Regions from separate parts of the Homo sapiens genome. Here region 1 is linked to region 2. Evidence: fine-mapped expression QTL. A gene starts in region 2. The other region holds a variant in brackets. All regions are shown on one strand. Distances are between the middles of the regions. Region 1 overlaps FOXJ2 (forkhead box J2). Region 2 holds the start of FOXJ2 (forkhead box J2).

Region 1 (5,376 bases), 23 kb before region 2:
AGAGTTTCCACTATTACAACTAAATAAGCATCTATTGTGTGAAAACTGACTCATGAAATGTTATGAAAGCTGTGGTTTGGGGAGTTCTGTTTCTTCTAACTGCCTACCGGTTGGGCACCTATTTTCCACTCCTCTTCCTAAGCTCCTTAATTTCCTTATTACTCCCCAGCCTCCAAATCTTCCACATCAGACTTTGTGCCTCAAACAACCTCTAATTTCGTAAGATTCTAGTTACTCCCTTCCTCTTGCTCCAAATGAATACTTTCTAAGAAAGTATTTCAAGTGGAAGGAGAAAGAGGGTGGAGGATGGAGCAGCAATTCTTCTACTCTCTGCAACTGAGTACCCTACCAGGCTTGCCATCACATTTTAAAACATGACGACAGGCAACTTACATGCCAAAATTACCAAATATATCTTCTGGGTTTTTTAAATCCTTTTCTTTGCCAAAGTAATACATGCACATAGTTTTAAAATAATTTAATAAGGTATATAATGAAATATGAGGTCTCCTACCTCACTGTGCCCAAAAGTTCCCTCCTCCCACTCTCATTTCCCAGAGATAATCCTTGCACAATTTTAGATGTTTCCTTTGATAATTATCATGATGTTTCTAAATCATGTGCTTATGCTGCTCTTTTCTGGAGGCATGATAAAACGACTTCTTGTTTTGAAAGATGAAGATGTTTATCCAAGCACCCCATATTTTTAATTTGTTTATCCAGCATCCCAACATTCATTAATAACCATATTTTAATTCATTCATGACCACATATTTTTCTTCTACTTTGTCTATACACTCCAACCATTTATATAGCTTTCCTTCTGTCCCTTTTTCATTTAAAACAAAATTACCTAACTCCCTACCACCTTCTCATTTTTCTGTATATATAAATGTTTGTGTCAAACGTCTGAAATTTCTGGCTTGTTTGTATCACAACGTGGCCTCATCTAAACCAAATACAATGATGTAGTCTAAAAACAGAAAATGACATGTGTTTTAGACCTGCAAGACACTATCTGTTCAATGGCTGAGGTGAGGGTCTGGACTACAGATTTTTTATAAAGTATATGCAGAAAAATTACAAATCACTAGGAATTCTTTCAGTTGTGAAGAATGTCTGACATAAGATTTGAAGTGCTACCTTTCCAGCTTATATATTAATTTGCTTATATATTTGATATGAATAAATGCTTTTTTTCTCATGGGTCCTTGCGAGGCTCAGAGATTTATGAATCCTTTTGTTTCACATTCAGAATATATCACATCTCTAAATATGCAGCAAATAAGTCTCCTAGTGAGTGACTATAGACTTGCTATAATAGCAATTAGCCAGGCTTCCAGAAACCCCAGCACATCCCATAAGACCCTGGGAATAAGACCTAAACTCCTGGGGTTAGTGTATAGGATATCAAGGTGAATAATCTTGACGCAGTTATAAAGATTTAATGTACAACGAGTAATCAGCATTTCTGGACTCCTTTTCTTTTCCATTTGCTTTGGAAATGTATTCTGAAGAAATTCCTACAATTAGAGCTCCCTCATTTCTGATGAAAACCTGGTGAGTACCTGTAACTATTTTGTACTGTATCTTCTCCAGGAAGTCCCAGATGGGAACACAGCTCCTGTCCAAAGTATAATATCTTTTCTTTTTTTTTTTGAGATGAAGTATCACTCTGTAGCCCAGGCTAGAGCACAGTGGCACACTTGGCACGATCTCAGCTCACTGCAACCTCCACCTCTCGGGTTCAAGCAATTCTTCTGCCTCAGCCTCTCAAGTAGCTGGGATTACAGGCGCCTGCCACCACACCCGGCTAATTTTTGTATTTATAGTAGAGATGAGGTTTCACCATGTTGGCCAGGCTGGTCTCGAACTCCTGACCTTGTGATCTGCCCACCTCGGCCTCCCAAAGTGCTGGGATTACAGGTGTGACCCACCGCGCCCAACCAATATCTTTTCTTTTTGAGAGAGAGTTTCGTTCTTGTCACCCAGGCTGGAGTGCAACAGTGCAGTCTTGGCTTACTATAACCTCCGCCTTCCAGGTTCAAACGATTCTCCTGCCTCAGCCTCCAGAGTAGCTGGGATAACAGGCATGCACCACCACGCCCGGCTAATTTTGTGTTTTTAGTAGAGACGGGGTTTTACCATGTTGGTCAGGCTGAGCTCGAACTCCTGACCTCAGGTGATCTGCCTGCCTCGGCCTCCCAAACTGCTGGGATTATAGGCATGAGCCACCACGCCCAGCCCCAAAGTATAATATCTTAAATCTTTAAACTATCCTAAAATGCAAGCAAGGTGGGCCTACTCCATATACCAACCTACAAGGGGTGACTGACTCTCCCGCAATATGTCATCATACTTGATAGCATTTGAAAAGAGGCACGTTAAGGACGTGCCTTTGATTCTTCTTTCCCACCAAGGTCACAAAACGTGTCAGGGTCAACTAATTCAACCCAGTGGTGGAAGGTGGAAGAGGAATAAAGACGAACTGAGACTAAATTCTTTCACGTTTCTCTTTTCCTTCCCTGGCCAAAAGAAACTTGAGACCACTACCAGTAAGATAAAACTGTAAACATTCTTTTTTTTTTTT[T/A]ATTAAGAAAGCATGCAAAAAAACAATGACAACAACTTGTGAGACCATATACCCCCTTCCCAGGATGCAGCAATGCAAAGCATTATGGGTGGTGGCACAAAGGACTCACCAAACCAGAAACATGAGGAGCAGGGACTGAGGAGAGAAAGGTTGGGATGGGTGGATCTATACCAAATAATTACTCCTTTTGTCCCTCTCCTCCACTTTCTCTCTTATTTCCTCTTATAGGCAGTGAGCTTCTGCAGTTTTGCACACATCACCCAATACAACAATAATGACTACACTTTGTGTCCAGCAATGCTAGACCAACAAGAAAAAGTAGTATTCTTTTCATTTCATGAAGGGGAGGGGAAACTGAGGCCCAAAGGGAGTCAGGTTTGCCCTGTGCCACGTAGCAAGACTGGGCTTGGTGGAAGGGAGCTGGAATCTCAGGAGGCCTAATGGCCAATCTCCAGTCCCAGACCCAAACTTCAGCTACCCTGGCTGCACGCCAGAATTCTTCATGAGACTAGTTTGCAGAAGACACAGATGAACAAGGGGCATTTGCATGTATGATCCTACCCTTGCAAATCCTGTATGGATCTGAACAGGAAAAGGGTTTAGAAAAGAGAAGTGATCATTTACAAATGGGGAATATTGAGGAGAACTGATGGGAAGTTTTGTATAGGACACACCCTGACTGGAAGGAATAAGGAAGGAAAAGATGCCTAAAATAGGGACACTGGGCAAAGGCATTTTGCCACCCTCTAAGAGAAATTCTCCTTTCCCCAATGGGAAATATTATGTCATACTTCAACCCCACTAAGTGCCCTCCAACATCATGGGAGATTCAAGCCACTCGCACCCCCATTTCTTTCTTAGAAAGGCTTCAAAGAAATAAAGTGCTCTTTAGTTAACTGCCCTATCTTGCCCCTTTACTTCAGCCTCACTGGACTTCTTCAATGAACTCTCATATATAACCCCCTTCCAAAAAAAGGAAAGGGGTGGATGAAAGAAAAAAGCAGGAGAGCGGAACGCCAAACCTCTTGGAAATTATGGGTAAATAAAATAATATGCATGAAAAGCAGAAATCACAAAGAAAGTGGCCTTGTCTATTCCATACATTTTGTCCCACAGCTTTTCAGCAAGTGAAATAAGGACAGAAGTAAAATTGTTCTTCCCTCTCGTAACTAAAATTCAACAATCAACATTAAATATACACTGAGTACTTTGCAACAGTAAGTCATGGCCACCCCTTGTAAAAGAGATGAGTTAGCTCCATACCTTTTTCTGGGGGTCCCCCTTGGCCCTCACTGAACTCTTGCCTCTAGATTATTTACTCTCCTCCACCAATCTCCTTCACCCCTCAAAGCCTACTTGCAAAAGCTTCAGCCAGATGATCTGGATTCCAAGAGAAGCATCTGCCTATATATTTAAAGAACTAAAATATTCCCTATCCATTTCTTTGCCAGCTCTTTTTTCCTCTCCCCATCCTCCTACCACCAACACTAAAGGTTTGGCTCTGCTATGAGAGGTGGGAATGAGATTCCCATCATGTCTCAGGGCACGACGAAACTCAGAGTGATAATGGGTTACTTTTTCTTTCTTGAGAATCCCAGAAAATGAGGGAAGAAAAAAGATGGGTGGAAGATTTGGGCAAACAATTAAAGGAGGACAAACTAATATTTGCTGAATGGGAAAAAGGGATGGGAAGATCATTCGTAAATGCAAATAAGAGCCACAATTAATTTTCAGAGAAAATTATGTTTAAAAAGCCAAAATAGTTAAGTTGGAATCATCTCCAAGAAGCTAAAACCATGCTGAATAGTTGTCCTCATGCCCTACCATAGAAGCAGAGTTTGGGCTAAAACCAATCCTATCTTCTTAGAGAACAGGCTCAAAACAAGCCAATGGACACTGATGTAACATGGCAGTGTATACTCAGTTTCACACTGACTTATATTCCATCCCTTCCAATGGTCTCCAATTCCACTAGGATTTTATTGTCACCCTCCTGCACCACCATCATCACTTTCACCCTTGATAGGAAATACAGACTGGCAGAAGTAAGGATTGAAGGTATAAAGGGACAAGGAAGACCTCAGAGGACAGAATTAGCACCATTTTAAAACCTCCAAATTCTTGGCTGCCAAGTAATGTTTCAGACCCTTTCTACTTGGTAATGTGGCCTCTCCAGTCCTGGCCTGAAACTGATGGGAACAAAAAACAATTTAGGGCCAAAAGGTGGGATTAGCATTGAGTTTCTCCAAGAGAAAGGTAAACTGGAGTCTAAAACCTTTCTCTGTAGCTATCATGGCTTCATCTTCCAGCCTGATGATTTTAAATTAGCAAAAGGTGGACATGATCCATGATGTAGGGACAGGAGACTATGGACAGTATATAACCAATAATAATAATAATAATATAAGAATAATAATAAAAGAACTAGGAAAAAACAGGAAGGAAGAGAGAAGAATGAGGCAGGAAAGAGAGGGTTATCTTCGGCAGCATCTTGCAGTGGCTTCTCTGACAGAGAAAGAACAAAAAGAGGATATATGTCTATATACAGACGGGGGGAAGGGACGGGCTGGGGTTGCTCTTTCCCCACTGCCAGATTTCACCACGCGGCCCTGGGCTGATGTCCACACTCTGTGATGCACTAAGTGATCAAGTCCCAGTCGAAGTCATCAGGGATCTCCTCATTGGCACCAGGAGGTGGCACTGATGGCCGAGGGACCATATGGTGTGCTGTTAGAAAGAAAGAAAGAGAGTAAAAGGAGAGTGGATGGGAAGCTGTTCCCTCAATT
Region 2 (5,376 bases):
CTATCTCATATACCACCAGTAGCTTCCAGGACAAATGACTGTACTCAGGAATTTAGGTAGACCTCACCCATGCCCCAGAGAGAGGAGGAAATATGAAAGGCCAAGTCAGATGAAGCCTCCTTCACAACTTGTCCTTGCTGTGAGACAGAAGATAAGGTATCTGCTAATGGTGAGGCAGGAAAGCAGACAACCAGCTAGTGACCTCTCCTAAAAACAGCCTAGGCTTCAGGGGAGGATTTCCTGGTACCCTTTTCCTGCCTTTTCTGAAGATTCTGGACTTTGATAATTCCCTAGCTTATGAAGGAAAACTTTAACACAAGGTTCGAGGGACTCAGAACTGAACAAGAAACAGGAAGGGAGAGGATGAGACTATTAGGTACTTTTCTGGAAGGAAACTTTATATACTCCTCAGAAGTGAAATCTCTCCAGTGGTCAACTTGTTTAACTGGAAGTCTGGACAGAAGCGGAGCAGCAGCCCTCCTCCCTTCGTATCCAGGATCTAATTTTTCCTGAAGAATTGTGAGCAAAAAACAGGAGTCGAGAAGGGGACTGGGGCAGTGGTTCAGGGCCAGCATCAAGGAAGCACTTTAACCCGGGAGTTGGCATTCCCCTGCACACTTTCTTCTCGCCTCAGAACATGTGGGATTCCCATTTTCCCTTTGGATTTTATGGGCAGAGGCATACATCCAGCTAGGAATGGAAATGTCAGGAGAGGAGGCCTCTTGGTATCTGAGATAGGATGAGCAGGAACAGATTGCTTTTCTTGTCAAGGGAGCTATAATTGCAGTAAGCTGGAGGGAACACCTCTGGTGAACACTAAGCTGACCTCGGCATGCCCTGGGCAAGGCCAGGACCCCAGATGCCACCGTGATTTTCATGACAGCCCACTCTCCAGGGGAAAAGGCCCAAGGGTGAAGGGTGGTATGGGAATCTTACCACTGGTTGGGTTGTGTAAATCACTGCTACACAGTATGCATGTTCTCAAAATGCAGCTGTTTTCCGATAACCCTTTTCCTCAGCATGAAAACATCCACTTCCCTAAGGGACCTAAAATGAATCCCATCCCTTTAGTCCCCAAACACTAAGAAACCCATTTCTCAGAGCTTCTGCAGCAAGATGTGGGTTCAAATCCAGGAGCTCCCTTGGATCACATTTCCCATTGGATTTTCTGAGTCATCACTCTGTCTTCCCCGGCAGTGAAACCCACGATCCACCAGCTCAACCCCCTACACCCACTAGTGCCAGACAATGACAGAGAGAAGATGAAAGAAAGCACTAACCTGTCTCCAAGGTTCCTCCGGCAAAGGGAGGGAACCACCTGGTACTGGAGTTTGGGGTTGGAGGGATTCCCCTCTTCAGAGGCAGGTGACGGCTCTCATCCTCAGTGGCTCTTCCTGGACGAGGCTGAGCCTCCCAAGTTGGTGAGGGGAACTGGGTCCCCTGAGGATGAGGAGTCAAGGTTGGAGGAGGGGGAGGGGGAGGAGAAGGAGGTCCTACTTGGGGAAGGTGGCACACCCCCCACACCCTGCTTGTTACCCGGGGGAGGAGGGGAGGAGCCTCTCCCAACCAGGAGTTGTCTCCTCCCCCTTGGGGGAGTTCCCCTCCCCCCCAAACTGGATCTTTCTGAGGTGGAGGGCTCTTTCTGTCTGCTGGAGATAGGAGCGGAGGGGCTCCACCCCGTTCCACTGTCTAGGCACGAGGAAGTTGAGGGGGAGGTCTTCCCCTCTCCAGAAGGCTGAAAGCCGATTCCTCTTCTTTCCCTGGAGTGGCTTCTGAACGTAAGGACTCCTGTCTCCTGTGAATAGTGGTGGGCCGAGGGTGCCTACTCCACAGGCACAGCCCCGTCTCTCTTTGCCTCCAAAGTCCTGAACTGTTGAGAGTGTGTGTTTGGAGGGGCGGGGGCGCGCTAGGGTGGTCTCACTCTGCTTCCCTACGGAAAGCTCCCTTCTTTCCACTTCTGGGGGTCTCCTCCCCGGCCAGTACAGGGGTCTTCCTCGCCTCTAGGCAGGAGAGAGGCGTCCCCTCCAGGGGTCTCTTCTTTCCCTCACCCGAGTGGTAAGGGTCTTTTCTCTCCAACAGGGGGAGAGGTTGCTCGCGTCCCCGCTCCCGCCTCCGCTCCCGGGGTGCCCCAGAGGGTGGGGCTTTCGTACTCCCGGCTGTCCCTGAGCTGGCCTGGGCAGCACGGTCCGGGAGGCCGCGGCTCGAGACTCCGGTCCCTGCTACTGTGGCGGCAGCACCTCCTCTAGGGCCGTCCTGTCGGGTCCGCTCCCTTCGGCGCGTGGGGCTCCCCGCGCTGCCACCGCTCGGGCTCCGACCAGTCTGGGCTCCCGGGGAGCCAGAAGGCGGGCAGACAGTGTCAGGGCTCGGCGCGGGCTCGGGCTCGGCTCGGCTCCGCTGCAGGCCCCGGCTCCTCCCCGGCCTCCGCGCCGCGCTCCGCGCCCCTCCCCCTCCCCCGCCCGCCGGCCGCTGCCGCCACCGCCTCCCGGCGCGGGTTAAGGAGGAGCCGGGAGACGCCGAGCCGCGGGCAGCGCCGAGCCGCGAGCCTCGCTACCCGGTGTGCGCTCCGCCTGGAGAGCCACGGCCGCTCTCACGCCGGCGAGGGATCTCGCCGCCCTCGCCCACCTGCGGCCGCGTGGCTCCGGGAGTTCGCCGTCTACCCGGGATGACAACTCACTGCTCCCCGTCGGGAGAGTCCCTAGTGCGCACCGTATACCGTCAATTCCAGCTGACACCCCAACTCCGGCGTTTCATTCTGTTAAACTCCGTATACAGATGAACAGCCCCAGCTTTCTCAGGACTGTCTTTGATGGGCTTCTCTTTCCCTCGAGATAATTTATAAAGGATCATGAGCATTGAGGTGAAGATTGGGGTGAAGTTTATATGTTACCCTTATATCATCCTGGAATTCAGTAAATGCTCCTTGAATGAGTGGATACATGATAAATGAGCGTGTAACGGTGAAATAAACATCAGAAGATCTGGGTCCTGTTCCTTGTTTCAGCTTCCTAAACTTGTGCATGGCCCTTGTTCTCCGCAATCTTGCTCAGCGAAGAAGGGACCTTGATACTTGGCCTGCTTACCCTTTACAGCTGTCACATCCTGAAGTCATATTATTCTGCTGCAAATTCTCATATATTTCATACTCTGGCTTTTTTTTTTTTTTTTTTTTTTTTTTTGAGGTGTTGTTTCACTTATTGCCCAGGCTGGAGTGCAATGGCACGATCTGGGCCCACTGCAACCTACGCCTCCCGGGTTCAAGCGATTCTTCTGTCTCAGCCTCCCCAGCAGCTGGGATGCCTCAGCCTCCGGAGCAGCTGGGATTACAGGCGCGCGCCACCACGCCCGGCTAATTTTTGTATTTTTAGTAGAGATGGGGTTTCACCAAGTTGGCCAGGCTGGTCTCGAACTCCTGACCTCGTGATCCACCTTCCTCGGCCTCCCAAAGTGCTGGGATTACAGGTGTGAGCCACCGCGCCCGGCCCATACTCAGGCTTTTTAAACTTTTATCAAACTACCCTACTTTCTTTCCTTTCTTTCTTTATCTTTTTCTTCTTTTTAAATAGAGGCAGGGTCTCAGTATGCTGCCGAGGCTGGTCTTTAATTCCTGGGTTTAAACTATTCTCCCTTTTTATGCCTCCAAAGTGCTGGGATTACAGGCAGGAAACACGGCCCGGCCTACTCTCTACTTTATAGCACATAAGATAATAGGAGGCCAGGCGCAGTGGCTCACGCCCGTAATCCCAAAGCTTTGGGAGGCCGAGGCGGGGGGATCACTTGAAGTCAGGAATTGGAGACCAGCCTGGCCAACGTGGTGAAACCCCTGTCTCTACTAAAAATACAAAAATTAGCCCGGCGCGGTGGCGGACGCCTGTAGTGCCGGCTAAGGCAGGAGAATCGCTTGAACCCGGAAAGCGGTGGTTGCAGTGAGCCGAGACCGCGCCACTCCACTCCAGCCTGGGCGACAGAGCCAGGTTCCGTCTAAAAAAAAAAAAAAAAAAAAAGAATTAGCCAGGCGTGGTAGTGCGTGCCTGTAATCCCAGCTACCTGGGAGGCTGAGGCAGGAGAATCACTTGAAACTGGGAGACGGAGGTTGCAGTAAGCCCAGATCGTGCCGCTGCACTCCAGCCTGGGAGACAGTGAGACACCGTCTCAAAAAAAAAAAAAAAAAAAGATAATACGAATACAAAAATATTGCTTGCAAAATATTTGAATTGCCCCCAAAAGACTGCATACTTAAGTTGTATGTATATATTATATGAATAATTATATTTACAATATGCCAGGCATTGCACTGAGCATTCTGCATGTGTTGTCACATTGATGATTCTAGCGATTCCCTAAGACACTATTATTATACTTCTTTTACAGATGAGAAAATTGTGACTTACAGATACTATGTGTGAGTTCGCTTAATTAGTAAGTAGCAGAGTCAGGACTTAAATCCAAATGACTCCGATGCCCAGCTCTTGACTTCTATACCATTGTCCGGAGCGATCAGAATTTAAAGTCATCCTCAAAATTAAAGGCAGTAAACCAAAACAAGCCTGTTCTTCCTGCTCACACTTCCTATATTCAGGTTTAAAGATGTATTTTTCCTCTCTTTGAGGCATTAAATAATTCTCCCACACGCAGATAATTTGGCGGCAAATCTTTCTTGCTATGTATTAGATGTTTTGTTATGTTTCAACCGTTTTTGACATTTCCTGTGTATGGAAATTGGAGGGCTTGAGTGACAGGCAGTTGTACTAAAAATGGAAACATGAGGGAAGGATTAGAATCTTCCTGGCAATTTGGAAAAATAAAAAGCTCAAGAAATTATTTGGTTTTTACAAGACATTTGCTGCAGTATTTTTTGTAACTGGAAAATTAGAAAAGACCTAAATATCCAAAATAGGGTAATTTTAAATATATTATGGCACATCTGTACAACAGAGTACTATTTAGCATTTGCAAGAATAATTGTATTTATCTCTGAAAGGTAGAGTGAGTGGAGTTGTTTTATTTTTATAATGTTCTTTATCATTTAGATATTTTGCAGTAGGCATACATTATTTTAAAGAACCATTGTTTTATATATCTGACTTATTTGAGTGAGAAAATAATATTTTAAAATTTGTATAATGCAATCATATAGTTGCTTTTTAAAATATATATATGTTCATGCATATATTTGTGTGCATACCAATAGACACATAGAAGATGGATACACACCAAAGATGTGAGTTTATGGATTATTTTAATTTACTTCATTTTTTAATGTATCTATAATTAGTGTTTGTGTAGATTTGCTTATGTAATTTTTAAAATTAAAAGAAACTGACAAGGCTGGTTTGGTATGGTTTTGCCCTAAGATTGGGGGGAAGCACTTACATTCAT

The links. PIP is the estimated chance that this variant, and not a neighbour inherited with it, causes the effect.
Region 1: its variant is fine-mapped to the expression of FOXJ2 in whole blood (TOPMed, PIP above 0.99).

What each region holds. Positions count from the first base shown.
Region 1 is chr12:8,052,703-8,058,078 of GRCh38, reverse strand. It overlaps FOXJ2 (forkhead box J2), which reads right to left. Exons shown (of 11, transcript NM_018416.3): 11 at 2,562-5,317. The coding sequence ends at 5,229. C3AR1 (complement C3a receptor 1) reads left to right here. Exons shown (of 2, transcript NM_004054.4): 2 at 1-1,235. Among named protein-coding and RNA genes, the nearest start is that of C3AR1, 11 kb to the left of the region's middle. The variant T/A (reference allele first, on the strand shown) is at 2,591.
Region 2 is chr12:8,029,738-8,035,113 of GRCh38, reverse strand. FOXJ2 (forkhead box J2) reads right to left here and starts at 2,398. Exons shown (of 11, transcript NM_018416.3): 1 at 1,281-2,398. RefSeq lists silencers at 2,304-2,543, 2,564-2,713.